4 linked regions of the Homo sapiens genome follow. The main gene of each other region encodes a partner of the protein of the gene in region 4 in a complex. Each region holds a gene or a part of one and is shown on either strand. Other genes may lie near its edges.

What was found.
Region 1: CACNA1S (region 4) and CACNB2 share a complex: the UniProt entries of both Homo sapiens proteins name them as parts of the calcium channel complex.
Region 2: CACNA1S (region 4) and CACNB3 share a complex: the UniProt entries of both Homo sapiens proteins name them as parts of the calcium channel complex.
Region 3: the proteins of CACNA1S (region 4) and STAC2 are in contact, whole or in part, in a crystal structure (PDB 6B27), measured with the Homo sapiens proteins. Residues at the interface, in NP_000060.2 of Homo sapiens: Glu749, Pro750, Glu751, Ile752, Pro753, Ser755, Pro756, Arg757, Pro758; in NP_945344.1 of Homo sapiens: Tyr301, Lys302, Phe303, Gln306, Glu307, Asp310, Asn326, Asp328, Trp329, Phe340, Pro342, Asn344, Phe345.

The regions. Positions count from the first base shown.
Region 1 is NC_000010.11:18,535,407-18,542,428, reverse strand, and holds part of CACNB2 (voltage-dependent L-type calcium channel subunit beta-2), read right to left. Parts: intron 6,329-7,022; coding exon 6,233-6,328; intron 4,250-6,232; coding exon 4,064-4,249; intron 3,236-4,063; exon of another isoform or gene 3,200-3,235; coding exon 2,705-3,199; 3' UTR 1-2,704. UniProt on the Homo sapiens protein: Beta subunit of voltage-dependent calcium channels which contributes to the function of the calcium channel by increasing peak calcium current. Plays a role in shifting voltage dependencies of activation and inactivation of the channel.
Region 2 is NC_000012.12:48,814,177-48,821,499, reverse strand, and holds the start of CACNB3 (voltage-dependent L-type calcium channel subunit beta-3), read right to left. Parts: upstream 3,005-7,323; 5' UTR 2,571-3,004; coding exon 2,526-2,570; intron 2,455-2,525; exon of another isoform or gene 1,558-2,454; intron 1-1,557. UniProt on the Homo sapiens protein: Regulatory subunit of the voltage-gated calcium channel that gives rise to L-type calcium currents. Increases CACNA1B peak calcium current and shifts the voltage dependencies of channel activation and inactivation.
Region 3 is NC_000017.11:39,222,927-39,230,181, forward strand, and holds the start of STAC2 (SH3 and cysteine-rich domain-containing protein 2), read right to left. Parts: upstream 3,020-7,255; 5' UTR 2,577-3,019; coding exon 2,487-2,576; intron 1-2,486. UniProt on the Homo sapiens protein: Plays a redundant role in promoting the expression of calcium channel CACNA1S at the cell membrane, and thereby contributes to increased channel activity. Slows down the inactivation rate of the calcium channel CACNA1C.
Region 4 is NC_000001.11:201,060,420-201,067,441, forward strand, and holds part of CACNA1S (voltage-dependent L-type calcium channel subunit alpha-1S), read right to left. Parts: intron 6,575-7,022; coding exon 6,468-6,574; intron 5,898-6,467; coding exon 5,810-5,897; intron 5,527-5,809; coding exon 5,419-5,526; intron 2,096-5,418; coding exon 2,043-2,095; intron 1,672-2,042; coding exon 1,525-1,671; intron 1,050-1,524; coding exon 848-1,049; intron 398-847; coding exon 239-397; intron 1-238. UniProt on the Homo sapiens protein: Pore-forming, alpha-1S subunit of the voltage-gated calcium channel that gives rise to L-type calcium currents in skeletal muscle.

The sequences.
Region 1 (7,022 bases), on a different chromosome or scaffold from region 4:
ATAATTGTGAATCTCTTACCATGACAAAAGTTTTATCAGAAATATTTTATAAATTCAATTTTAATTAGAATATGGTTTCCTACCAATGTAAGAATTGTCAAGTTTATTATGACTACTGATTTTATACTCAGTAAATAAATTTATGTAAACAGTGTAGGGCTAATTAACGAACTGAGGGAAATTTTTTCATATATAAGCTGATAAAACATTATATATGTAACTAATTTTTATTTTCTTTTTTTAAACACCAGGTTGTCACCAGGCTGGAGTGCATTGGTACAGTCACGGTTCACTGCAGCCTCCACCTCCTGGGCTCAAGGGATCCTCCTATCTCAGCCTCCCAAGTAGCTGGGTCTACAGGTATACTCTACCACCCCAGCTTAATCATTTTTAATATTGCGTTTTCTTGGGGGTAAGGGAAATAAGGAGTTAAATGTAAAACAGTTTTACTTATAAAAGGCTAAGAATATTTGGTAAGAACTTGGAATAATCAAGGAAGCAAAACAAAGTAGATTTTATAATTTTGCTGGATAGTTTTTTTTGTTTTTTGTTTTTTTTTCTTTTTTGGAGATGGAGTCTCACTCTGTCACCCAGGCTGGAGTACAGTGGTGTGATCTTGGCTTACTGCAGGCTCCACCTCCTGGGTTCAAGCAATTCTCCTGCCTCAGCCTCCCAAGTAGCTGGGATTACAGGTGTGCACCACCACACCTGGCTAATTTTTTATCTTTTTAGTAGAGACGGGGTTTCGCCACGTTGGCCAGGCTGGTCTTGAACTCCTGACCTCAGGTGATCCACCCTCCTCAGCCTCCCAAATTGCTGGGATTACAGGCATGAGCCACTGCGCCCGGCTGATTTATTTTGTTAAATAAGTTAATGTGCAGATCTGAAGTTAGGTAATTATACACAGGCATTTTCCTGGGACAAACTTCAAGTGCCAGGTACTTGCACTCTTAATACTGTCTTACCATCCAGTTATAACTGGACAAAATATACACTTGAGACACGGAAAAGGTCTTAGCCTTAAACATGATGACATTGTAAGCTTCTTACAGCAGTGTAATTGAGGCATGGAGATAATGTCTTCAAGGTTCCCCTTCTGTGTACATGTCTTATGTAGGATAATATTCTTAACATTTTATTCACTTCAAGTCACCCCATTTTGCCCTGATTTCTTCTGAAGAACAGAAACTTTGGTTATAAGAAGCACTTCTGGGTTCTGACAGACAGTGAACCTGCTGGAGTCGGTGGTGGGGAGGAATGGTAGGTAACTGGGAGGTAAACAAACAACAGGAACAATAGGCAAGGTTAGAAATTGAAGTGGGAGAAGTTATAAAAATTTATTTTCCCACGAAATAATTCCACAAGCTGTGTAAACATTTCTTACTAAAACAAATACTCTAACACACAAAGATTGTACATTTCCAGTGAAACACTCACAGTAAAATTGCCTGTATTTTCACTCTCTAGGAGCAAAAACAAGGAGGCAGCAGATGAATGCTTTCCTAGTTACCTTTGGCAGCAAGCTTACTCACATTCCCTGACTGCTCAATGGGTTGTTAAAGCAACATATAGCACAATTAATTAAATACAGAGCGAGGTGGGCAGAATGCTCGATATCAGTCTCTAGTTTCTTCGTTAGTCTTCAGCATTCCAATTCATCTCAACCATTCAGTCACTCGGTGCACACTTTCTTACATACGGACACACACACGTGCATATAGCGAGTTCCGGCTCGTAGACTCCAGTGCAGTGACTAGAACAGACACTAGCTACTAAGAATGTGTCACAATCAGTGTGAACTGTATGGAGTAGAACAACCTCTGGAGTTTTATATTTACCATAATTTATGGTGGAAATTACAAACTTACTTACAAGGATGGTATAACATTCAGAATTCAAACCTTTTCAAGTCAAGCAATCACACATATTTACAGTATGTACACACTTTCTACTAGAATGAGGATAGGTGTCTAGACAATGTTATTACAAATTTCCTGAATGTGGGCATTTCTAGTCCCTGTAATTCATAAAGCAAATCTGCTGACTTGGCATTAAGACTCTAAAATAGTGTGATCAAACTGATATATATATATATTATATATATAATAAGAAGGTGTTTGTTTGCAGAAATAACATTTACAAACTGTCTATACAGTACACAGTACTAGTACATAGAAAATAGATTCTAACTTTATGATCCCCTTTGTGTAAGGCAAGACTGAATCTGTCCCCAAATTTAGTCAGCCAGAGGTACAAGCAAGAAACAGTGGTCCATGAATGAATATGCAAATCAGATGCCTGCGTATTAACGTATTAAAAATCTGGAGAAACAAGAAATTCCACTTTTTATCTGTGCTGATTCTGGCTTGTTGGATACATCAACTACATTTCTTAAAACACTAACATCACCTGGGTGGCAACAGATTTTGTTCAAGTGGCAGCTACCCAAAACAGTTTTTGAAGAGTCCAGTATGCAACCGGAGGACTGCAGCCATACCAGGCCAATTTATGTAGCACTTACAAAAGAAAAAGTATCTCAATACTCTATCCATGCTATTGCTATTCAAGCAACAGCAATAATACAAAATATTACAAGACAGATCACATATGATTGCAGTGTAGACCCCAAAGACTTTGTTTTGGGGATGCTGTTAGTTATACAAGACTTCAAAAAAAAAAAAAAAAAAACACAAACGGGCAAAACTCATTGGCGGATGTAAACATCCCTGTTCCACTCCCCAGCCTCATTCCGTTTTTTTGATATCACTTCTCCATCCTTTTCACAGTAGCGATCCTTGGATTTATGACGGCTGCGCTGCTTGTTGCACTCGTTGTGGTCCTGCTCTCGATCCACGTCCCGGGAACGGTGCCGGGACTCCCTGTGTCTGTGGTCACTGCTCCCGTGGGTCTCGTCTCTGTGGTTGTGGTCACGGTGTGAGGCATAGTGGTCCACGTGGTCATGGGAATAATCTTCCTTTGGCTCTACGTAGGCAGAGTCTCGACTCTCCTGGGTTTCCGAGTCAAATGTCTCTTGCCTGGAGAGGCCGCGACTTGTCCCACTGCGATGGTTGTGGTGTGGGGCTGAGGAGGAAGAGCGGTGCTGGGATTTCTTGACTGGTTCCACACTAGGTTCTTCTTCAGCTTGGGAAGCAGAACGGATAGGAGCGGAGCGATCAGTCCTCTGATCACCTTGAGAACCCTGGCAGCGAAAGGAGCACACCAGGCGTTAACCAAGGTCAGTGTGTAAAGAACATGTCCCAGAGCAAGTGCATTCAAGCAGAGTCCTTTTTAAGCATCCGAAAAGCTGAAATGAAGTCTAACCTAGCTTCATCCCTTTGGTAACATCCAGTGGCATTTATAAGGCTTTATACTATACTATATTAAATTGGACTTTTGTAAGTGCCTAGAACAGTGCCCATGGTAACTTTTTCCTTTAAAAAAAAAAAAGCAGCAGCAGGGAAAATGTTCTTTTATTTATTCTCCTGTGGCTCAAATACAGATGCAGGTCCCTGAGATTTTTCTATACAGCGGTGTAAACTTAACTACCTCTGCTTGACTGTATGTGAGAATATTAAAAATAGCAAATGCTTACCTGATACAGTGATACAGTATGGGACAGGCACTGTTCTGTAGACCCTTTGTATATAATAACTCATTAATACAACAGCCCTATAAGATCATCTCTTGAGATTATTAATTCCAGCAGCCTCTTGGACAGGTTGCCATTATTATTCCTGAGGTAAGAACAGTTAAGAAATTTGCCCCAGGTTATCCACCCCACAAGTGGTAAGAGGTGCAGCCAGGATTTGAATCTAGGTGATCCACTTCCACAGTCTATGCTACTGTTTAGAAAGTTTCGGTAGTCTGTGTATGTTCCCAATATATTCTGTTGATGGTGCTTTTCTTACAGGTACATACACAGCTCATGCTGGACTTGCTTTGAGTTAATATACTAGAACAAGCCCCAAGCAGGCTACTGGGCTTGGATCCTAGAGGTGTCACCATAGGCAACCTTTTTTCTATGAAGATTGTATATATAGATATATATAAAAACTCCCCTTACCTGTGAATTAGAGGCTAGGGTGGGGCTAAGAGGCAGACTTGAAGTGGCTAATGTACGGCTAAGGAGAGGGTTGGGGAGGCTACTGCTGGGAGGATGGGTGGCCTTCCAGTAGGCCTCCAGATAGTCGGCAAGGTGCTCACAGGCATCCTCAAGCTGGTTCTCATCCAAGATCACATCGAACAGCTCCTGCAGAGGCAGACATTCCAGACCACATTGATGCCAGCCCAGTTTTCACCCCCTTCCCACCTCCATAAGAGGAGGAAGGGGCTCATGAGCTGCACCCCTTTGTACTTGCTCCTGCTTCTATAAGTGCTGCTACTATCTCCCTTTTTATTTAGTTAGGAAGTGTCTGACTACCTCAAATCATTGTTGAGGGCACTGAATGCTTAACTAATAAATAATGGCCAGAAAGGTAACAGTTGTTAAGGACATGGCAACCCAGAAAAGTTGTCTATCAATCAGCAATGAAAAAGGCATAGATACTATGGTAGAAAAGAGATGTATATATATTTGAACAGAATAGAATAGAATAGGAAGAAGCCTGTTCTTGACATAAAGATTGTGATATCTTTTTTCTTTTTCTTTTTTTGAGACAGAGTCTTACTCTGTTACCCAGGCTGGAGTGCAGTGGCCTGATCTTGGTTCAGTGCAACCTTGGCCTCCCAGGTTCAAGTGATTTTCCTGCCTCAGCTTCTCAAGTAGCTGGGGTTACAGGTGCCTACCACCAAGCCCTGCTAATTTTTGTATTTTTAGTAGAGATGGGGTTTTGCCATGTTGGCCAGGCTGGTGTTGAACTCCTGGCCTCAAGTGATTCACCCGCCTCGGCCTCCCAAAGTGCTGGGATTACAGGTATGAGCCACCATGCCCGGCCCAAGATTATGAAATCTGAATTTAGAAATTAATAAGGTAAGATTAGGATGTGAAATTTTGACATTGTCCAAACTTCACAGTAGTTCAGTAGAGAAGAAAATAATGCCACTTTTCAAAAGATTTTTTAGTGTTTATTATAAATTTTAACATATATTAAGCAATCAAATATTTATAGACCCTGAAATGGCTATGCTTAAAAAGAAAAAAAAGCCTGGTGCAGTGGCTCATGCCTGTAATCCCAGCACTTTGGGAGGCCAAGGTGGATGGATCACTTGAGGTCGGGAGTTTGAGACCAGCCTGGGCAACATGGCAAAGCCCCGTCTCTACTAAGAATACAAAAATTAGCAGGGCATGGTGGCGTTTGCCTGTAGTCCTAGCTACTTGGAGGGCCGAGGTGGGAGGATTACTTGAGCCCGGGAGGCAGAGGTTGCAATAGTGAGCTGAGACACCACCACTGCACTCCTGCCTGGGCAACAAAGCAAGACCCTGCCTCCAAAACTAAACCTAGGAAAGCTCTAATACCTCAAGGCATTGCATGTAAAGCATAGACGACAAGTGAGAATCTAGGTAACTTATTACTTAGAAATTGATTTGAGACCATGTGAAAATAAATGTCTCAGACAGTTATTAAGAGCAGACAACTTGATCCCTATGATCAGAAATGAATAATATACCAACTCCAAATAGACTCATCATACAAGCCAAATTTTCGGAACCAGGATCTTGTGTTGGATATTAACAAAGTGAAGTTACTGCAGGATGTACGGAAGCTTTTGGTAAGCTATGATCATCGTTTGGATTACTTGTGCTCAAAACACATGATCATGGAAGGAGGGAGGACAGTTTACTTTGGAATGAATACCACTGTAAGTGATGAGGATTCTCTTCCCTGACAGGTGTTTGACTGTTTTTTTCAAAATATAATGCCAGTTCTGGCCAGGCATGGCAGCTCATGCTTGTAATCCTAGCACTTTGGAAGACCAAGGCAGGAGGATCACTTCAGGCCAGGAGTTCTAGACCAGCCTGGGCAACATAGCAAGACCCCGTCTCTACAGGGGGAAAAAAAAAAGTTAGCCGATCATGGTGGCATGCACCTATAGTCTCAGCTGCTTGGAAGGCTGAAGCAATAGGATCACTTGAGCCCGGGAGTTCAGGGCTGCAGTGAGCTAAGACCATACCACTGCACTCCCAACATGGGCAACAGAGCAAGACCTTGTCCCCCAAAAAAAAAAAAAAAAAAAAAAAAAAAAAAGGTCTGATCTCTGTAACTGGATTATGCTGTATATAGAGATAACTTACTGGAGGACACTGAGCCAGTTTATCAGCTGCTACCATCTGGACGTTGAGGTGTTTAGCTTGAGATTTCCCTCGAGATTTTATTAACCTTTGTAAAACCTGTAAAAGATAATGAGTTTTTAACAGAGTAATAACTACATCCAGGTAAAGTACAAGGTACATTATTGACTCCTTTCTCTGGGGCCTTTTTATATACAGCACAAGGGGCTTATAATAGATGGAGCTATAAGATTATCTGCAAAATTAACATGTTAACATAAATCACAGTTGCAAGCTTTAAGCACTCACATTTTTTCTATGCTAGCAGCTCTCAAACATTTTATCTCACAACCTCTTTAAAGAAGCTAAAATGGAAAACTATTAAAACATTTATTTAAAAATTCACAATAAATCTGATACATGTTAAAATATATATATATATATTTTTGAGATGTAGTCTCGCTCTGTTGCCCAGGCTGGAGTGCAGTGGTGCGATCTCGGCTCACTGCAAGCTCCACCTCCCAGGTTCACACCATTCTCCTGCCTCAGCCTCCCAAGTAGCTAGGACTACAGGCACCCGCCACCACGCCCGGCTAATTTTTTTGTATTTTTAGTAGAGACGGGGTTTCACTGTGTTAGCCAGGATGGTCTCGATCTCCTGACCTCATGATCCTCCCACCTCAGCCTAGTAGAGTGCTGGGATTACAGGTATGAGCCACTGCGCCCGGCCGAATTTTTTTTAATAAAAATAGCTACATTTTTACACATCTCTCTAATGGCTGGCTGGCTGGCTTCATAGAAGACAATTGCAGTC
Region 2 (7,323 bases), on a different chromosome or scaffold from region 4:
TTATTATTTTATTTATTTACTTAGAGACAGGTCTTGCTCTGTCACCCAGGCTGGAGTGTAGTGGCACAATCGTAGCTCACTGCAGGCTTGAACTCCTGGGCTCAAGCGATCCTCCTGTCTCCTGAGTAGCTACGACTACAGGCATGCGCTACCATGCCTACTAGTTTTTTGTAGAGACAGGATCTTGCTATGTTGCCTAGGCTGGTCTCAAACTCCTGGGCTTAAGCCATCTTCCTACCTTAGCCTCCCAAAGCATTGGGATTATAGGCATGAGTCTCTATGCCTGGTTTAATTTAGTAATTTTTTTTTTTTTTTTGAGATGGAGTTTCACTGTGATGCCCAGGCTGGAATGTAATGGTGCGATGTCGGCTCACTGCAACCTCTGCCTCCCGGGTTCAAGCAATTCTACTGCCCCAGCCTCCTGAGTAGTTGGGACTACAGGCATGTGCCACCATGCTGGGCTAATTTTTATATTTTTAGTAGACACAGGGTTTCACCATATTGGCCAGGCTGGTCTCCAACTCCTGACCTCAAGTGATCTACCTCGGCCACCCAAAGTGCTGGGATTACAGGTGTGAGGCACCGCTGGCGGCCTAATTTAGTAATCATAACGCCTGAGGCATCTGGCTTACCTGACCTCTCACCCTGGGATGGGAATCACAGGATCTCTTCCTAAATATTTAATGAGTTGTGCTCAGAATGGAACCCCCTCTCCATTACTCCCAAGTCCTCCAGGCTCACTCATCTCTAGTGCTCCAGTATTACTTGGGGAGGCCAGGGCTGCCCTGCCAAGCATGATCTAGGGTCTTACCTTTCCTGTACCCTGCTACGCCAAAATAGCCAGAGTTTCAGTACTTTGGAGCTGCCAGGAGTTGGCACAGTGCCCTGGTGGTGCCCCCCTTGCCTAGTGAGTGTGTGGGCAGGCTGCAGCTCCTCTCTTGCCTGGCACGGGGGAAGGAGAGGAGGGAGATGAGCCGTTGGATTTATTTAGAGCCTGATCTCCCTCCTACTGCTTCAGAGGGGGCCTCAGGGAGAGCAAGGAGCCAGGCAAGAGAAAGGGAAGTGGGGGAGGGTGATCAGAGCCAGAGAGAGATGGGAGGGAGCAATGGGTCAGCAGGCTGCCCTCCAACACCATCCACATGTCAGTCTGCTCCTTGCAATAGCCCTTGCCTTCTCACCAGGGATGGGAAGAACCTCCTAGGGCCATCCAGCCCCACAGAGAGGTTTGTTTTCAAGCTCACCTTGGCACCCTGGGCTATACCAGCTGTCCCTTCAACTGTCAGAAAGAGGTGTCCACCAGAGCCTTGAAAATGATCTGATCTAGCGGCAATGTAATTAGCCCCAGAGGCCCCATGGAGAATTGGGCCCAGAAGGAGACCAGTCCCAGAAAAGGACAGTTGCCTATTCTGAACATCAGCATTCATCTATCCTGGGCCTGGCAGTAAGTGATGGGAGAAGACTTGAACATGAACTCCTCTTTCCGACCCAGGGGTGCTCCAACCTATTGGGGCCCCTTCCAAGCCATCTAGTGGTCCACTCCTAAGGAGGCCTTCTTACAGGACATTTGAGGGAAAGTTGTCAGCTCCAAGGGGCTGAGAAGCTGCTCCGCATTCTTGCCCCATCTTTCCAGGCACTCTCCCTGCTGTCTGAGCTCCGGGAATCACTGCTTAATGAGCTGATTTGTCTCAGTGGGTCAGGAGATAAAAGCAAAGAGGAGAATTAAATATTTATCGGTTGCCTGTTTCTCTGAGCAAAGCGCTTCCTCTCCATCCCCAGGCCCTCAGCTCCTCTGGCCTCACCTCCAGGCCCTCCATGCTGGGCAAGAGCTCAGGATGCCCGCTGCAGAGGAAGCCTCAGCAGGGGGCTGTGGAATAGATGGGGCTCAGTCACCTGGCCTACCCATGTGCTGGGCGCCCAGGTTTCAGCCTGGGAGAGAAACTGGGCTAGAGAAAGGGTGAGGAGATGAGGCAATGCGCAGAGATGGAGGGGGTGGAAGGGAATAATGGAGCTCCTCAAGTTTTAGGATCCGTCTGTCTGAAGAGGTTGGCCCCTGGCTCCCTGATGTCCTCTCAGCTCCCTGATGTGTCGTTTGCTTGAGGCACAAGAGGTCTAGAATGTCTGCCTCCCCAACCACCTCGGCGGCTCTCCTAGCTGTTGTGTTCAGACCCCAGAAATCCAGAATTTGGAACTCCAGACATGGCGTGTTCCCTCTCCAGAGCCTCTGTGCCCTCGGCCTCCAGCCCTGCCTTCTCCCACCCCTCTTTCCTGGGCCGTGGAGCCACCTGCTTGAGCCCTTCCCCTATACTGCCCCCTCTCTGCACACACCCGATGCCCCAGGGTCTGAGTCTGGGTCGCTGGGGAACGCTTGGCATGAAAATCCATCTCCCCACGTTCTTAGAGCGCCCCCCTACAAACCCTGCCCTGCCACTGAGGCGTTTTTCAAAGTCCTGAACCGGGGAAAGGGTTGAAGGGAGAGGAGGTGTCACCCCAACTTCCCCGCCCCCACCCTCATCGTGGGCACTCACCGCCTCCGAGTCCTCAAACCCGGGCACGTAGGAGTCGTCATACATGGGGGAGTCCGGGTCGGGGGAGCGAGCGGCGCCGGGGGCGGGAGCGGCCCGGAGGCAGGGGCAAGGACTGCGGGCCGCGCCCGGGAGATGCCACCGAGCCCCGCAGCCCTGCGGGCGGCGGCAGGGAGCGAGAGAGCGCGAAGGAGGGAGCGAGCCGCGAAGACCAGCTGCTCGGAGCTCAGATCACCGCTCCCCCCACCCCACCCCCCCAAACCCAGCCGGTCCCACCCCGAGCGCGGCTGAGGAATCTGGCGCCGGCTCCTACAACAATAGTGCCCGCCCACCTGACCCCCTCCCCGGGAGAAGGCGGGGGCGGCGAGGGGGCGGCGGCCACCGGGGAGCCCGGGCCAGGCCGGGAGAGGGGAACGAACCCGTGCTAGGTGGAAGGTGGGTCCCCGAGCACCTACGGGGCCGTGGCGGCGGGGAGGAAGGGGAGGAGAGGCTGCGGGCAGGGCGGATCCAGGCAGGGAGGAGGCGGGGCGAGGAGAGATGCGGAGACAGAGACGCTCGGCAACCCAGGAACTACTCCGCCGGGAAACAAAGGGCTGCGGCGGGGGAGGGAGGGGGCGCTGAGACCGCGAGGGAGACGCGACCCGGGCGGAGACTGGAGAGGGCGCAGGTGTCGAGGAAACCGGAGAGAGAGAGGCAGAGGGAGGACGGAGAGGACAGGAAAATGGGGAGACCGTGGGAGACAGAAGAGGCGCGGGAACGAGCGGCAGACGGGGGAGGGGTCCCAGGCGACAGCAGGGCGGGTCTGGGCCCGTGCGTCCCGGAGGCTCCGAAAGCAAACCCCGCAGTGGTCCCGGGGAGGAATGGGCTTGGTGCCCCCAGGCTAATGACAGGACGGCAGCTCCTGCCCCAACAGGTGCCCGGCCCCCTCAGTACGGGGACGCTGCGGCAAAGGCGGTGTTGCCCAACCCTTGAGAAGGGGGGAACTTTCCGTGAGCTGGGTAGGCCTCCCCACACCTGTTGCACGGATAGATTTTGTCTTAGTCCTGCCAGGATGGGGGTTCCCTTCCCCACTTCCCTGCCAAGGATTGTGCCAGACAGTGCCAAGGCATCCGTGGGAACTGGGGCAGAAAGGGGCTGTTTTAGGTGAGCCTAAAGGGAAGGGGAAAGAAGCCAGAGGGTGGAGGTAGGGGGATAGTTGTGGGTGGGATCCTGGCTACACTCGGGTTGGGAGAGGAAAGGGCCAGTCTCCTCGGAGTCACTAGGGTAAGGCCAGATTCTCCCCTTAGCAGAAGGGCTTGTACCACTCTGCACCACTCAGTCTCCTTTACAGGAGCATTGAGATTTGGGGTAAGAGAGCCGCAGCCCTTATCTTGAGGAAACTTTCCCCAAAGATCCACCCATTTGAGCTCTTTCCTTTTTTCATCTCCTGAGCAAAATTCCTTCTTTGATTTTTGACTGCCTACCTTTGTGCCCCACGAGGAGGATGTGCGTAGACAGGGGTTACACTTGGAGGCCTCCTGGTGCCCATGCTCTTGGCCCTGAGCTCAGTCCTTTTCCTTCCCAATTTCTCACACCCGGGAGTTCAGCAATCTGCTCATCCCTCCTTGGCTTGAGGAGAATCAGAAATCCAAAACTCTGACATGGCTTAGTAAGATCTATGGTAGAAAGCACTGTGCATGGGAGAGAGAAAGCCCACCCAAACCAAGTGGCTTCCCACCTGGGTCACTTATCGGTGTTATCTTGGCAAGACAAAGAAGAGCTGCATCTTCAGACTGACATCTTTAGTCTGTCTACTGTGGGTGGCCCAGAGCAGCCCTGCCCAGCACCTTCCTCATGCTGGGTTTGACAAACAACTTTGTTGCAGCCCCTGTGGCTGAAGGGACTGTCTCCTCTCCTGAGTCCAGCACCAACTGGGGTTTGGTCATATACTGGATTCTTCTGTATTGGAAGTTCCCAGACACTGCCCACTTTTGTGCCCTCACCCAGTTACGCAGTATTCCTTGTATCCCCCTCTTTCATCCTTTCTCTTCAATTCCTTCTTTCAGGGGCCTGGAGAGGTGTCAAAGAGTAAGACCCTCAAGGTGCTCTTCTCCTGGGAGATGGCTCTAGTGAAGAAAGCAGTGGTGGAGGCAGCTGTTTCTCTTCCCATCCCTGCATCCACTCTCCTGGCCTCTCCTTTTGGGACTCTCTCCACCCACAGAAGGTCCTGGGGCTGTAGGTAACAGCGGATCTGCCATCGGCAGCACTCCTTCCTCACACTCCTTGTAATCTCCTGCGACAAGGTTGTCTAAGTCTGCTCCTGAGGCATGTGTTGCCATGCCAACCATCCCCAGGAGATGGGTTCAAGCTCCTCATACCTGGGCCCATCCCCTGGGTCCTGCAGTAGCTTCAGAGCTTCCCTCCTTCTTCTCATATCTCTGGGTTGCTACCCAATGTTCCTTTCATTTCTCACCCACACCTGCCTACTCTAGTTCTAATACCAACTTGGTGACTTCTTGTCCTGTGACAGGACATGTGCCTGTCAGTGTCCATGTAGCCCTAACCTCTTTTCTTTTTCATGGCTGGGCATAAAGGGAGAGAGCTGAGGGCAATAAAGGATCAGGGGAGAGGCTCCTCCTGCTGATTCTTTCTAGGAGAGAGTTGTTAGACTGGCAGCTGGCAGGTACCCAAGTCATAGAAGCAAGACATAAGAGGAAAAGCCTGAATAATCAGGTTTGGGAGCTGGAATATATTGAAACCTTCTTGGGAGGTTTCAGAATATATTCTAGCTTCTCCTCTAAGTGTACCAGGAAGCTGGGCAGATCCCAGTCCCTGGGCACTGAATGGGGAAACTGAGACAGAAGCTAGGCCTTCTGGGAAGACTTAAAGACTCCTCCCCAGCAGTTTTTAAGATCTGGACCAGGTGGAGGCCCCTACCATTCTGGCTGCTAGGCTGCCAGGGAACTCAGGGACAGGCGCTAGGGGAGCTTGGCAGAGCCCTTCTTGTAATCTAGCCCCTTTTTTTCTGGCTCCTCAGTCAGTCCTCTCCTCTCATCCAATCCCAGTACTAGGAAGCTGCCAGCTCTGGCCGCTCCCTCCTCTCTAACCCGGTGCCTCTTCCACCCCTGGCCTCACTTCCTCCGGTTTCCCTGCCTCCCCATCGGTGCAGTCTCCCCCAAACGCGTGCCCCCTTCCTAGCTTGGAGCGGAGCTCTCCTCCCACCCAGTGGGGAACCCCCTTCCCACGACCCCACACCCCCCCCACGGTTACCTCGTTCAGCAGGAAGGTTGCACTGGAGTCAGAAAAAGACATAGACCAGGCTAGCGGCCTCTCCCCCTCCCCCGGGCCAGGGGCTCCGAGGCGGGAGCAAAACCCGGCCGCTGCTCTGCACGCTGCTCCCGCCTGCACGCCTGGCCTCGCCCCACGCCCGCCGGGCTCCGCCGCCTGCTCCCTTCCCTCTCCCCTGGTTCCCTCCCTCTTTCTCCTCCCTCCTCCCTCCCTCCCTCTCCCTTCCTTTCTCGCCGCCTCTGTCAGTCTCTGGCTCTCCCTGCCTTTCAGCCCAGCCTCTCTCCACTTCCGTCTCTCCTGTCTAAGGTCCTCGTTCTGTTTTTCCGTGTGCCTCCCACTGTCCTTCCATCCCCACGTCGCACCCTCGCTCCTCGGCTTCCCCTGCCGCTCTGCTTCTTCCCTAAAGTCCTCCCGAGAAAGAGTAGGGACTCTGGAGTTTCCGCCGCCGCGGGCAGAAGGGCAGGAAGAGCTCCAGGGCTGCCCCAGCTCCTGAGCTCTTGGCGGAAGCTTCTGCTCCCTCCCGGCCCTGCTCCGTGCGCCGGCCGCCCATCCTCCGGCGGCGGCTGCGACCCCGACCTCGGCGGGGGAAAGGACCGAAAAGCAAGAGTGCTGGTGCTCTGCTCGCCCGCCCAAGCGTCAAGGCGCCCATCCACCCGTCCCCGGCTCGGCTCTGTGTCTCCAGAGGGATCGGCATCCCTGTGGAGAGAGCCCAGCTGGGATCGCCCCGCGCCCGCGGAGTCTCTGCCGTCTCCCCCCTCTCCTGGGTTCTGGTGCAGCGGGTCTCAGCTCCGCGAAGGGGAAGGGCGAGGCGAAGCGACGCGGCTCCTTCTCGACCCGCTGCAGCGCCCCTTGGGCTCGCTGGCCCGGCGGCTACACGCGCCCTCCAGGTGGCGGCACCGCCTGGTGTCCGGTCCCGGGGCCGCAGGGTCCGGCCCTGCCAGCAGGCGGCGCTGCCCAGGCCAGAGCAGGGGGGACGCACCCCGGATCCAGACACCGCCCAAGCCCAGGACGAACCCCTCTCCCCCTCCTTTCTCCAGGAACTGCAGTCCCAGCTCGAGACCCCCAGTAGGAGACCCCAGGCTGCGCTCTACTTATTCCCACCCCGTGGGGCTCCTTCGAGACACCCGCGCCCTTCCGGGACCCTAGCCCGTCCCTACCTCCATCCTGGTCTCGAGGGGCGCCCCAGCTAAGCCGGGCAGCGTCCTGGCCGGGACTGGGCAGCAGGGAGTACAGAGTCGCGGGACCGCTCCTCGGGTCAGTACCCCTCCCGCCCCTTTCTGCGGGTGCGTCAAACAGGACAAGCCCAAGTTCTGGCGGGGGAAGGGGGAGCGGGGGTGTAGTTCCAGTTGGCTCTCTCTCTGGACCCTTCTGAGCGGACAGACCGCTCATTGGTCCCTTCACACCCCCAACGACCCCAGGCTGGACCCTTCTCCAGACCAAAGACGGCGCCTGGGGCGGGGAGAGACGGACCCCCCTTCATGGAGACAGACACACGCTGACTCCGATTGACCCAGGTCCCCAACTTCCCCTCAGC
Region 3 (7,255 bases), on a different chromosome or scaffold from region 4:
ACAGCAGAGATGGCATGGGGTGGTCCTCCCAGGGGTGGCAACAAAGGGTGATGGGCAGGCCTTATGTGATAAGAAGGGAAGGAGACCAAGAGAGGAGGAGGACTCGCTAGGAAGGTTGCTGGGTGGCTTGGGTGCAGGGCTGATTCAGCCTGGGGGCAAGCAGGAGGCTGGCCAGTGATTCCCAGGGGGCACCAACACTGATGAATAAGCCTGGAATGTTGGCATCACTGCCTGAAGGGCATTGGCCCCCTCTGTTGTACCTGCCTCACACTGAGCTTGGTGGGCGGCACCCAACTGTACTCTTCCATCTCCACCCACAGTCTGGAGACAGGAGCTTCTTTGGGCCAGGTTGAGGTGCAGGATGGAAGGAGGCTAGCAGGGGTCCTGAGTTCTCTCTCTGCCCACCTCTGCCCTGCTGAATACCCCCGACCCAACCCACAGCCCAGTCTGTGTTAGTGCAGAATCCTTCACAAGAGTGATGTATAGGGGAGGGGCGGAGGGCCGGGGCTCCAGCTGGCCTGACACAGAAGGGCCGGATCAGGGGTGTAACCCCTCCCCTCCCCTACTCCTTGAATCTCCAAGCTCAGACCCAGAGGTGACAACATTGGAGGGTCCCTGGCCTGGGAAGAGGGAGAGGTACAGACCTGTGGCCCTTGACCTTCCCTCCCCACACAGCTGAGCAGGCAGCTTGCTGGAGTACTGAGGCAGCACTACCCCACACTCCTGCCCGCCTTCCAGCACTCCCACATAGGAGGAGGCTGGAGAGGACAGGCCTTGGTGTGGGAAACAGGGCAGGGCCTGGGAGGCCCCCAAGCCCCTGGAGGCAAGCAGGGGGACTGTGTATGTCTACCCAGGTGACTAGAGGGCAACCGAAATCAGGGGCATTGGAACTCAGGGGAGGTTCAGCTCCTAGACCTTCTGCTTGACAGAAGTTGTCACAAATATTCCAAGCAATATCCTCCCACCCAAACATCTTAGTCCTTTCCCAGGAGAGACTGAGACTTGGCTCTCTAAAGGGGAGTCAGCTCTGGCCTCACAGACCAGAGTCTCATTTTTAGAAGGGGGCAAGAGAGAGTCAGGTGTGCATGTGAAGACTTGAATGTGGAGACCTGCTGGGTCCCCTGGTGCAGGATGGGGGCTCCCTGGGGTGCCTCTGCCAGACTCCACCCTGACCCTACGGCCTCCTCCTCCGGTCACTCCCTTGATGACCTTGACCTTGAATTAACCTCAGCTCCTGCGGGATGGTCAAGATGGAAGAAGGAGGAAGGGGGACAGTGGAAAGAAGCCTAGCGAACCCAGGACGCCTCCGGAGCCCAGGCTCCCATCATTTCTGGTCCTCACTGTCCCCTTTCGCCTCTGGAGAACAGGAGCAGGATGGGAACAAAATACCGGGTGAAGGGGGAGGGAGGAGGTCTTGGCCTGAAGTCTGGGAGGTGGCAGGGCGCGCCCTTGGCACAGCCCTTTCTATCCCAACCCCAGGCCCGCTCAGGTTGATCCCGCAGAAACAGAACTTCTCGCGGGCCAGTCGCCAGCACCTAGAACTTGGGAAGGGAGCAGACGGATTAGAGGTCGGGGGAGTGCTGAGTGTGAGCGGCGGCCTCCCCACACCCCTTTCAGCGCCAGGAGTCTGGGCTCCGCCTGCCTTCGCGGGGAGTAATTTATTCATGGTGACTCCCTCAGGAGTAACAATCATCCATAATTAGGGTTAATGATGACATTCATTAATTACGATGACTTCTCTTTTTGCTTCTACCCGCTCCCCCTCCTCTGGTCCCGCTCCCGTGGTGGGGCGCGGGGCTGCCTGTCTTTCTGGTCTGGAGCCACAACCGCAGGCCCCCGTCCTCGCCCGTGACCGACGGCCGGCGCTGCTGCAGGCCCCCTCGCGGACTCCGCAGCTGCGCACCCCCGGCCGCGGCCTCGCGTCCCCGAGCCCAACAGGGCTAGGAGCGGGGAATGCAGGACTGCGGAGGGGCAGGGAGAGACGCCCTGAGACGCGGAGATAAACACCCGGAGACGCCGGGAGAGACGGGGAGAGACGCACACAGAGACACCAAGACACAGACACGCAGGTTGTAGAGACAAATTCAGAGACACGAGCGAGGATAGAGGCGCGGACTGAGCCCGGGACTGGGACCCGGCGGCCGCTGGAGGGTGCGCCTCGCACGCACAGCCGGGCGCGTACCCCGCCCGCACCGCTCCACGCGCGCCCTCCGGCCTCGCTGCGCCCATCTCTCCAACGAAGACCAGTGGCCGCCTCCCCAGAAGGTCGCGATGGCGCGCGCGGGCGTGCGGTGCCGGTGTGATCGGGGGCTCCTTGTGGCCCCTCGTCGCCAACCCACTCCTACCCCCGGGAGCGGCGCGGAGCCTCAGTGGTCACGCGGGCCTCGCGACCGCGACCCTAGGACGCCCGGGCCCACAGGAGGACCCCGCCGGGAAGAGGGCGCCCGGGCCCGGGGCGCGGACAGGCCTTGCGCCCCCCAAGTTACCTTGGTTTCCTGGAGGGCGGAGACGGTCCCTGGGGGGCTGTGGGTGGCCGCGTCATCCGGTTCGTTCTCCTTCTCGCTCATCTCGGTCATGGTTCGGGGAGAGGGGAGGAGAGGGTGCCGAGATCCGACGGCAGGCCCACCGCGGGCAGGCTGCGGGTGGCGGGCGTCTCCGGGACTCTGAAGCCGTTCTCCAGAGGCTGCCCCCAGTTAGCCCCCGGCACGGCAGCCCCCAACCCGCGGGAGCGGGCAGAGAAAGTTGCCGGGGTGGCGGGCGAGGGGAGGCCACCACGCTGAGCCGCAGGAGCGGGACGACCCCGGGCGCGAGGACCGAGGGTCTGCAGAGGATGCTGCTCGCAGCGCGGGGAGGAGGGAAGTGGGGCCGCGGGGATGAGCCGAGGGAGGGAGCCAAGGAGCTGTCCGTGTCCAGCCGGCTCCGCCGTCCGCTGCGCCCGCCCCCCATCCCCTCCCCTCCCCCGCCGGCCCCAGCCCGGCACCCGGCGGCCCCTCCGCCCAGTCCTCGCCGCCCAACTTTGATTTAGGAGGTCGCCTGGTCCCGCCCCCTGCCCTACGCCGCTCCCCCGCGCAGCCCTGCAAATCAGGCTCTCAGCTATTGGCTGCCTCGGTGGCCAGGAGGGCGAACTGGGCGGAGTCTTGGGGGGCTCGACACGATGGGGCGGGGCTTGGCGGGGAAAGAAGCGGAGGAGGGAGTTTCACACTGAAAAACCCGGGATGGAGGGGCGTGACCAGATTGAGGGAAGCTTGGGGAGATCATAGTAGCGTCTGGATGGGTTGCAGGGAATAGAAATAGGTTGGGGCCGCAGCAAGATAGCGGAGAGTGAGATCGAAGCTAGGACTTCCAAAGAGCGAAGATTGATAGATGCCAGAGGTTGGTGAAGGAAGAATGGGGACCCATCTGTGCCATTAATTGGATGCCTTTATACCCTGAAAAGGCTCTCTCCAAATATACACACAACTGGACTATGGTGTATGTGTCAAAGGCCAGGCCGGACAATTCCTCCTTGTGATGGAAAGCCGGATGACTCTATCCCCTTCCAGTCTTGGCGTCTGAACTTCAGCAGAGATGGGGGCTCAGTCCTCACACCCAAAGTCCCCAAACTTCTCTGAGACACGCTCCCCTCCTAAAGATCCTACCACAACTGGAGTTAGATCAGGGGATAATACAGAGAGGTGGGGGAAGAGGTCCTCACCATCACCTTCCAAGGTGCCCCTCTCTCCACAATAACCTTCTATTTTTTATTTTTTTATTTTTTTATTTAGAGACAGGGTTTCACTCTTTCACCCAGGCTGGAGTGCAGTGGTGCGATCATAACTCACTGCAGTCTCAAACTCCTAGGCTCAAGCAATCCTCCCACCTCAGCCTCTCTAGTTGCTGGGACCACAGGCATACGCCACCATGCCTGGCTAATTTTTAAAATTTATTGGTAGAGACAAGTCTTGCTATGTTACACAGGATGATCTCCAACTCCTGGGCTCAAGCGATCTTCTCACTTTGGCCTCCCAACGTATTGGGATTACAGGCGTGAGCCACTGTGCCCGTTCAAGATATTTCCAATATTTCTTCTTCTCCTTCTCTTCTTCTTCTTTTTTTTTTTTTTTTTTTTTTTTTTTTTTTGGAGACAGGATCTTGCTCTATTGGCCAGGCTGTAGTGCAGTGGCTTGATCACACCTCACTGTAGCCTGGACCTCCTGGGCTCAACCCTCCCAAGTAGCTGGGACCACAGGCACATGCCACTGCACCCAGCTAATTTTAAAATTTTTTGTAGAGATGGAGTCTCGCTATGTTGCCCAGGCTAGTCTTAAACTCCTAGGCTCAAGTGACCCTCCTGCCTCAGCCTCCCAAAGTGCTGGGATTACAGGTGTGAACCACCACACCTGACCAAGATACCTCTTCTAATGCATGTTGATTATCTGGGACCCATTTTCTCAGGTCCCCCTCCCTCACCTCCAGCCCTCTTTCCTTCTGCCCCTTCTGGCTCTGACCAGCAGATCTGGCTTCCTCTCTTGGTCTGCCCAAGAAAAGGGAGATGCACTGGTGGCTGAGAGAACCTTTCCCTGGTGTGGGTGGAGAGACTTCTGGGTTTAAGTCTCCCTCCTCCTCTGCTGTGGGTGGTAAGATTGTGGGTGGGGGGTGCCACATGGGGGGCCTGAGGTGCTGAAGGGGGCCCTTATGCTAGCCTGAAAGTTGAGGGGTGGGGTGAACACCTCCACCCCCCACTCACCTCCCCCCATGCACACAGCCATTCATAGGATCTCTGCCCTCCCAAGCACGAGCTCACCATTGGAGCCCTGCTCAGGTTACCCTGTCCAGGAATAGAGATTTATTTGCCAGTGGCAGAAGTAGGACAAGGGCACAGTGAGGGTTCATGGTTGTAGGGGCTCTGACTTCGAGATTTCCTGAGGAAGGTGGGATGGAGCCTGAGTGCCATCAAATCAGTCTCCCCAAAGGCCTGTTCATGGCCAACCTTCCCCCATCTCCCACTGGACTGTCCTTCTCACTCCTGCCCAGCCCAGGCCAGTCCAGCCTTCCCTCCCTGGGCAGCTCAGATGCTGGGATGCTTGCAGCATTGAGACAGCAACATCAGGCCCTCCACTTATCCTGGGCTGGAACACACAGGGCCTTCTTCTGAGTTTGGAGATCTTCTGGGGGAGGTGCCCCTGTCTCCTCCCAAAGAGCAGGGGCTTTGGGTTCCTTAGGGGCCAGTACCTCTTTGGTCACTAATTAAGTGTGTGACCTTGGGCAGATAACTCAATCTTTTAGAGATTTTGTTTGTTTTGAGACGGAGTCTAGCTTTTGTTGCCCAAGTTGGAGTGCAATAGCAGGACCTCGGCTTACCACAACCTCCGCCTCCTGGTTCAAGCGATTCTCATGCCTCAGTCTCCCGAGTAGGTGGGATTACAGGTGCCCGCCACTACATCCAGCTAATTTTTTGTATTTTTAGTAGAGAGAGGTTTCACCATGTTGGCCAGGCTGGTCTGGAACTCCTGACCTCAGGTGATCCACCTGCCTCACCCTCCCAAAGTGCTGGGATTACAGGCATGAGCCACCGTGTCTGGCCTATAGCCTTGGTTTCTTCATCTGAAAAATAGTCATCGTGCCTACCCCACTGCTAGAATGAATGAGATAGTGTAGAGTGGCACTTAGCCCAGACAAGACAGGAAGACAAGACAGGAAAATTTATTTTAAAAAAAAAAGTGTTTATTTTGGTAGGGATGGGGGTCTCACTTTGTTGGCCCAGCCTCATTTTGAACTCCTGACCTCAAGCCATCTTCCTGACTTGGCCTCCCCGATAAAGTGCTGGGATTACAGGCACACGCCACCACGTCTAGTCAAGGAAAGTCCATTATTTTTCTTTTTTTTTTTTTTGAGACGGAGTCTCGCTCTGTCGCCCAGGCTGGAGTGCAGTGGTGCAATCTCGGCTCACTGCAAGCTCCGCCTCCCGGGTTCACGCCATTCTCCTGCCTCAGCCTCCCAAGTAGCTGGTACTACAGGCGCCTGCCACCACGCCCGGCTAAATTTTTATATTTTTAGTACAGACGGGGTTTCACCGTGTTAGTCAGGATGGTCTTGATCTCCTGACCTCATGATCTGACCGCCTCAGCCTCCCAGAGTGCTGGGATTACAGGCGTGAGCCACCGTGCCCGGCCATTATTTTTCTTTCCCTCCTTTCTTCTGGGAAATTTGTCCCTTCCCAGTGCTTTCTCTGAGGCAGAGAGAAGAAAACCGCTTCCTTCTCTCACTTTCCTTGGCCATTTGGAGCCTGGTATTCTGTGGGGTAACCAACCCAGAAGTGGTGATTCCTGGACAAAGAGATGCTAACTAGATACAGAGAAGAATTCCCAGGGGAACCCGTAGTTCTGGCAACCGAGGAAAGCCAGGGAAGTTGGAGGACTGTGGGGCTCATCTAGTCTGGACATCAGAAGCCTGAGGTGGGGCAAGCATGGCGGAGGCAGGGGGATGGATGCCATGACCTCTCGATGTCCTTCCTGGCCTGCAGCCTTTGTGTTTCAGAGCGGTCTCTCCTGAACTAAGTCTGAGTCATTGCTCTTAGTACTGACAACTCCCACTGCAGTGGATCAGAGACGAGGCGGAAGCAGCCTGGCCAGCCTCTCCTGGGAAGGAAGGAGCATTGCCCCATCTCAGATTCGGAGGGTAGAAACGAGGGGCAGGCAGAGCGAGGGCCAGGTGCTGCCGGGGGGATGAATGGCAGCCACACTCTGGAGGGCTCCCTCAGAAGTGGCAATAGAACTACTGGGGTGCCTCTTGTTGGGAAAGTGGGCAGTGGGCTCTTGGGAGCCCTGGGACAGGGATGACTTCAAATCTGCATGCAGCACAATGTCTAGCACATGAAGAGAGACCAGTCCTCAGCCCAGCTCTGCCTTTTGCTTCCTGTTTTGTGACCTTGGGCAGAGAGCTGTCTATCTCTAAAGGTACTTGAGTTTCCTTCTTGTCAGACTGGCAGAATTGGATTAGATTAGTTTGAAATGAGGAGTTGGATTAAAATGAGGGCAATAATGATACATCTCTTAGCACTCTTTTGAGGATTACATGAGTTAATGTACGTAAAGAGATGGACAGGTTGGGTGAGGTGGCTCATGCCTGTAATCCCAGCACTTGGGGAGGCCAAGGCGGGTGGATCACCTGAGGTCAGGAGTTTGAGACCAGCCTGGCCAACGTGGCAAAACCCCATCTCTACTAAAAATACAAAAAATTAGCCAGATGGGGTGGTGGGCACCTGTAATCCCAGCTA
Region 4 (7,022 bases):
CCTGTTTGCAGAATTACCGTACTATTTTTATGCTTGAATTACCTCCTTAATAAACCATAAGTGCCTGGTGACAAGGCCTGTGCGCAGTTCACTTCTGTATTCCATGTAGCACCTCAGCACACAGTGCACAAGAAATGTCTACTGGGGGGAATCCTGGCTATCCTGCCCTACTCATCCTGCCCTACCCAAGGCCCAGGTCCCAGTCTGATCAGACATTTTTCTCCTGGGGAGCCCTTACCTGCATGCCGAGGCAGATGGTGTTGAGCATGATGAGGGCAAACATCAGGTATTCAAAGTAGGAGGAGGTGACAATGTACCACACCTGGTACTGGTATGGGTTTTTGGGAATGTAGCACCTCAGTGGGCGGGCCTTCAGGGCATACTGTACACATTGGCGCTGTGACACATACAACAGGACAGGTCAGCACCAAGAGGCCCCTCCCTCCCTCTCCACACCCACATCCATGGGATTGACGGGCAAGTCAGGAGCAGCTGTGGCCAGGGGCTGTGGCTGAGGACTGTGAACTGTTTAGGGGAATAATCCTGTTGGGCTTTGGGTTCCCCTTGAGTTATCACAGCCCATTCCCATGGGTGCTATAGACTAGACTGTGGGTCTGAAGGGCTTCCTTTCTCTGGGCATCATGAGGTTCCACAAGAAGACCCACTCTACCAACTTGTATTGCTTCAGTTTGGAGATAGGGTAGGGTGCATGGAGGCTAGGGCTTGGCATCAAATGCAGGTTCTGGGGTCACCCTTAGGCCTCTCTTCCCTGGCTGAACCTAGGGCTTGGGCCAGCAGGAGGCCTGCTGGAGCTCTGCCCTCCACCTCTGGCAGGCAGCCCAGGCACCTGGTTCTTGTCCAGCTCACAGTTCTTGTACTCAGTCTCTCCCTGCTCCTGGAAGGTGACAATGACGAAGCCCACAAAGATGTTCATCATGAAGAAGGCAATGAGGATGATGTAGATGATGAAGAAGATGGCCATCTCCACACGGTTGTTGTAGATGGGACCCACGTCCTCCGCATTGGAGTCTATGGCCTTGTACAGCAGCCTGGGGGTGGGCAGAGAAGAGAGGACAGACTGGGTGGGGTGACAAGGCAGAGAGTCAGGCTGGGAAGGATGGGCTTTATCCCACTGGCTGTGGAGAGCCAAGAGAGCCTTCTCAACAATCAAGTTACGGGACAGGAGTTAGGTCGGCGCCAGGAAAGACCAGACCCAATCCTGGAATGGCCCTGCCTTTCAAGAGGTTGCCCCATCTATCCCTAATCAATCAGTATTAACAATCTGCCCTGTGGGCAGAGAGGCATACACCTATGGGGGACTGCGTGCATTTTGTCAGAGACCCCTGGTCAGGCCTACTTTGGAGTGACCAGTCAACATACCATCAAACCATCAGAGAGTTGGTGGGTTTGTTGGACGCCTGCCACAGGTAGCAGTAGCACCGTGGGGGCTGCAGAAGGGCAGGCTGGCTGCCTGGTCCTACCTGACCATGTCCATGAGGGACCTAGGCCCCAGCCATCACTCACTGAGGCCATCCCTCGAAGGTGGAGACCGTGAAGAGGGACATCATGGCTGAGAGCACATTGTCGAAGTGGAAGTCGCTGTGTACCCACTCGCGGTGACGCAGCTCTATCTGCATGGGGTCCCCGTCCTTGTACACGTAGTAGTAGCCCCTGTGGCAGGGAGGCCCAGTCACTCCACAGGGCATGGCTGGGCTGCCTTGCCCCACCCACATCCTCTGGGCCCTGGGTGGGGAGTGTGAAGGAGAAATGAAGTTCCAGATCTGGGACCCAAGGGGACACCGCTGGGCGAGTCCGAGGAAAGGGGCCTCTGTGAGTGTCCCTCCTAAGCCTAAAGGCTGAGCTTCCCCAGTTTCCAGCTTGAAGGGCCGTCATCCACCAACACACAGTCCCCTGCCCTGTGATCGTCCTGCCACACTCCCTGCCCCGTGACCGTAACCCTCCCACAGTGCTCCCTGCCCCGTGACTGTCCCACCATGCTCCCTGCCCCGTGACCGTCCCACTGTGCTCCCTGCCCCATGTACCTGCACTCCTCCTCTGTCATCTTGGACAAGTCGGTGCACCTGAAGAACTTCCCCTGCAGCCAGGAAGAGGGAGGGAGGGAGGGAGGCATGTTGTCATGGAAACAGGATAGAAAAGTGGGCTCTGGGAGTGAACAGTGGAAGGGGGGAGGGAAGGCAGGCATCTGAAAAAAGGAGCCCAAGCCCATCTCTTCCTCTCAGAGGCGTGAACTCGCCCTTGGGGCAGGGCCCCAGAGCAGCCTCCTTTCTTCACCATCGTTCATTCCCACAGCTCCCCCAGGGCTTCCCCACCCAGCCTAGATGCTGCCAAGACCGAGAAGGCAGTGCCTCAGAGGGGCATTTACTGAGTGCCCCCTGATGGGCTGAGGGGATGGACATGAGTGCAGCTTGGCCCCTGCCCCTCCCTCGGGGAGCTGAGCCTCTGAGCCCCTTACCTCCCGCACTGCTGCAGGAGGCCTTCTGTGGTCTCCCATTATGGAACAAGGAGGAGGGGCTGCCCACCTCCCACCTCCATCCTCCTGCCAGTGGGGCGGGAGCAGCAGAGTTGGAGCCCAGCTGGGCTCTGATGACTCAACTTGTCTCAGAGTCAAGCGGGGTCCCATGTCCCAGCCCAAGGCCCAGGTAGGGGGGCTCTGTGCTCCTCTGCACTGACTTTGGCCAGAGCAGTTAATCCTTTTTTTTTTTTTTCAAGGCTTTGCAGATTATTTATTATAGAATTTTTTTTAAATTATACTTTAAGTTTTAGGGTACATGTGCACATTGTGGCAGTTACTCCTTTTATCTGTGTCTCAGATTGGGTCCCTGAGCAACATGTTTGAAGGAAAGTAGTGGATGGCTAGGTCTTTTTTTTTTTTGTTTGCTCACTCTGTCGCTTAGGCAAGAGTACAGTGGTGTGATCTCGGCTCACTGCAATCTCCGCCTCCCCGGTTCAAGCAACTCTCTGGCCTCAGCCTCCTGAGTACCTAGGATTACAGGTATGTGCCATCATGCCCAGCTAATTTTTGTATTTTTAGTGAGAAGGGGTTTCACCATGTTGGTCAGGCTGGTTTTGAACTCCCAACCTCAAGTGATCCGCCCGCCTCGGCTTCCCAAATTGCCGGGATTACAGGCATGAGCCACCGCGTCCAGCAGGATGGCTAGGTCTTAAAGAGGCTAAATCAGGCTTGAGATCCACGGATTCTGGTGCAGTTCCTTCAAAGACCCAGATAGGGAAACTGCCTCGGCCAAGGACACAGCACTAGTTGAAGACACAGCTGGCCCTTGCCCCCCGCTGCCCCTGCCACACAGATCTGTGCTGTTCCTATCACATGCCCTTTTTATGGTTGCTGGAGCAGAAGGTGAAGGTGAGGCGGGTGGTACTGGGGGTAAGCAGAGAGTGGATAGAGCTGCCACTGGGCAGGGTCTGGGCACTTAACACCAAATGCCCAGTTTACTATGGAAAGCAAAGCTTGACTCTGCTATAATGTGGAATGCACGTGGTGTTTCCACAGAGTCAAAAGCGACATCAAATGCCAACTGGAACTGTTATGCTTCTAGAACCTCCTGGAAGGCAGGAGCTGGGGGTCTTTTAATGAGAGACAAAAGCATGGCGAGAGTTGGGTGTTGACAAGCAATTGCTCTTGCTTGTCTGGAAGGGACGTGGAAGCCAAAGGGAGGGCAGCGGCTCATTCATTCCTTCAGGGAGCGTGTCTGGTGGGCCTCCTCTGCACCAGGCCCTGGGCAGGGGGCCAGGCAAAGGGATGAGGCAGACACAGACACTGCCCTCAGGGGATTCTGGGGACCCAAGCTTGGCAGAGGAGGGGGCTGGGGAGCAGGAGGTGGACAGCCCTCAGTTGGGCCAGGGGGAGAAGGCTGCACGCAGCTGGCAGAGTGGCCAGACACAATAAACACTCCCATCCCTCCCGTCCCTCCAGGACAGGGACCAACAAGACCTATTCCCCGCGAAGATTCTCTAGGGGCTCCACGCTGCTGCTTCTCTCAGAGCCTGTTCCCTGCCCTCAGCGAGGATTTGGCTTGTAAGGCCCTCAGCTCTAGCAGAGGCCCTGGCTCAAGTATGGAAAACATACTCCATACATGTTTGTTGAATGAATGAATGATTGTAAGATGATGCCATTTCATGTCTAAGACTGACTGGGGTTATGTAATTATGACTTTGAAAGATCGTGCTTTGGTGATAGGAGGAGCAGCTGGGTCATGCAGGAAGTATCAAGGGTGTTGGTGTATACTTAGGAATCAATTTCTCTGTCCTGCAAATGATCTGAGAGCCAGAGACATCTGGAAATCAGGGTTTGTGTGAGGGACATCTTTGTAGGGCTAATTCCTAGAGAGGAACTGAATAGCTGTGTTCTCCTAGGAAAATGAGAAAAGTATAAGGTTGGCTCCGGATGTGAGATGATGAACTCCCAGCCTTAGAGGCTCCTGGTAGATGTGGATGATGCCAGACATACCAGCCAGGAAGATGGGCTGCCGCAGCCCAGCTGCACTGACGGAGGCGGAGTGTGGGGCTGGGATAGGGCGTATGCTTGGCACAGGCCTGGCAGGATGGGAGGAAGCGGGCAAGGGTGGGAAGGGAGAAGAATGGCTGTGGGGCCCTGGGAGGAGGGGCCTCCCTCCCCAAGGAAAAGCCACGTGGGGTAGGGAGAGAGCAGATACAATGGCAACAGTGGTCAGCAGTCAACCAAGAGGCCCGGGATGGATGTCACTGAGGAAACTGGATCTGGACTTGCCACATATTAGCCTTAAAACTCTGTGCATTCAGTTGAAGCAAATTCACTTTGAGTCTCAATAATGTGTTGTGTTGCTTGTGTATTTAATTTTTAAAAGAGCTTAAGATAGTTGCTGTCAGGTTTTCATTTTAGCTTATTAGATCTCTTAAAGCTATTAACCATCATTGAAAGATGGCTGTCTCTTAAAAGTTTGATTTAGGAGAGTTGTATTTATAGATTGAAGTTTCATAGTCATATTTAAAAGATGGACATCAAACTAACCGTTTTCTTGTTTTGTTTGATAGAATTCTAAGTGCATGACAATAGCTTTAAGAGATGGGGCTTGAATTGTATTTAAATTTCAACTCAGTAGACACATGACCCTCTGCTACCATTTCAGTAGTGTTAGAAGCCCATTGACTGTTTCTGAGATTATCATTGGGCTGCTTTTGTGGAACTCAAGGTGCTATTTAAATGTAACGATGTCTTACTGGCTTTCTGCAAACTTATGTGTTTGGTGTGGTGAAGACCTATTTTTCAAAATAAAATATTCTCATATGGAAATCTGTGCATTCGAAGACATCTGTTTTCACAATGTGGGGCTCCTTGTGCTTGAGAGTGGGCACCAGGGCTGGGAGCGGGAGGGGGAGCTGCTCGCGCAGGCTGGGGCTCACCTTGAAGAGCTGGACGCCGATGCAGGCAAACATGAACTGTAGGAGGGTAGTGACCAGCACGATGTTCCCGATGGTGCTGATGGCCACGAACATGCACTGCACCACGTGCTGGGGACAGAGGGGCCAATGGGGACTGGGGGTGCACCCACAGTAACCCTGCTAGCCCAGTTGAGGAAACCCCAGGAGTGCAAGACTTGCTGCCTCCTGATGAGTTGGAGGTGGGGAAAGGCTGGTGGGGAAGCATAGCTACCCCAGCCTCATCCTTACCCCTATCTGCCCAGGGAGATGGGACAGGGGTCCCAGCCATGGCTGGGCTGAGGTTTCTGGAGCGAGGAGGCCCCTGTAACCCCTCCCATTCCTCTCTGGGGCTCCTGCCCGGGCCCTCTCTCACCTTCAACCCCTTGGCTCTGTTGATGGCTCTGAGTGGTCGGAGCACCCTCAGCACCCTCAGGATCTTCACCACGGAGATGGCACTGGACCTGGGGGGCGGCAATGGTGAGGGGGCTGAGGGCAGCCTGCTCCAGCCAGCCCAGTCTGCGGTGGAGCCTCCAGCCATATCCTGCCCTCCACACCAGCTGCCTTTCTGCCTGAAAACACTCCCACCTTCCCCTTCCCTTTCCTCCAGCCGTGAGAGTGTGCCCGACTCCAGGGCACAGCCACCCCTGCTATCTGGACCATGCTCTCATGGGTGTGTCATGAAGCAGAAGACAGCCTTCCCCTGTGGGTGGCTAGAAGCTCCGTCCCTCCCGTCAGACGGTGAGCACCCCAAAGGCAGGGGCTGTGCTCCCCACAGGGTCGGGGAGGGAGGGACCACTTCCTCCTCTCTGCATCTCCTGCCAGTCTCTAGAACAGAGCGCTGCCCACTTCACTGGTGGCAACCCACATTCCAGCTGGTGACAACCCACAGGACCCCCTGCCTCCATCGGAGGCCCCGAGAGACCCTCCTCTTGTGGCAGGGGCCCACCAACATGGGTGGGACTCCCACTACAAAGCCCTGGCACAGAGCAGAGGGTGGTCTGTGCCCAGGGCTGGCCCTTGCCGCTGCTCACTCAAGTCCCATGGAGATGAGGGACACGGCCACCACCAGCAGGTCCAGCATGTTGAAGTAATTGCGGCAGAAGGAACCCTTGTGCAGGAAGGCTCCGTAGGTCGTCATCTGGGGAGAAAGAGGCAGCAGCCTGGATGGAGGAGCTTGGAGAACAGGCCTGTCTCCCACAGACAAGGGCTTCTCGCCTCTGCTCAGGAGAGCACTTACTGAGGCAATAGCCTTCCAGAAATCTCTATATTTCACTCAACTCCTTGCAGTGGCCTAAATGCATTTCCTATCTCTGCTCGCAGTTGTTGAAATGTGAGGACTTCTCACGGGCAGCTGGGCCAGAAGTCTCTTTCTTTACATGCCATAGGGAACCCTGGGTCTCCTTTCCCATGGGGCCACAGAGTGGGGGAGCCCTGGCCCTACTGTCTCCTGTGGGACATAAAACTTCTCCTTCCTGGAAAGCTTCTTGGGCAATCCCCTCTGCCTTGTGGTTTGCTAAGTCAGGCTGAACAAGCCCTCCAGGACTCTAGGGGTCCTAGGCCCTCTCTCCTCCCTCTCCACCTCCTTC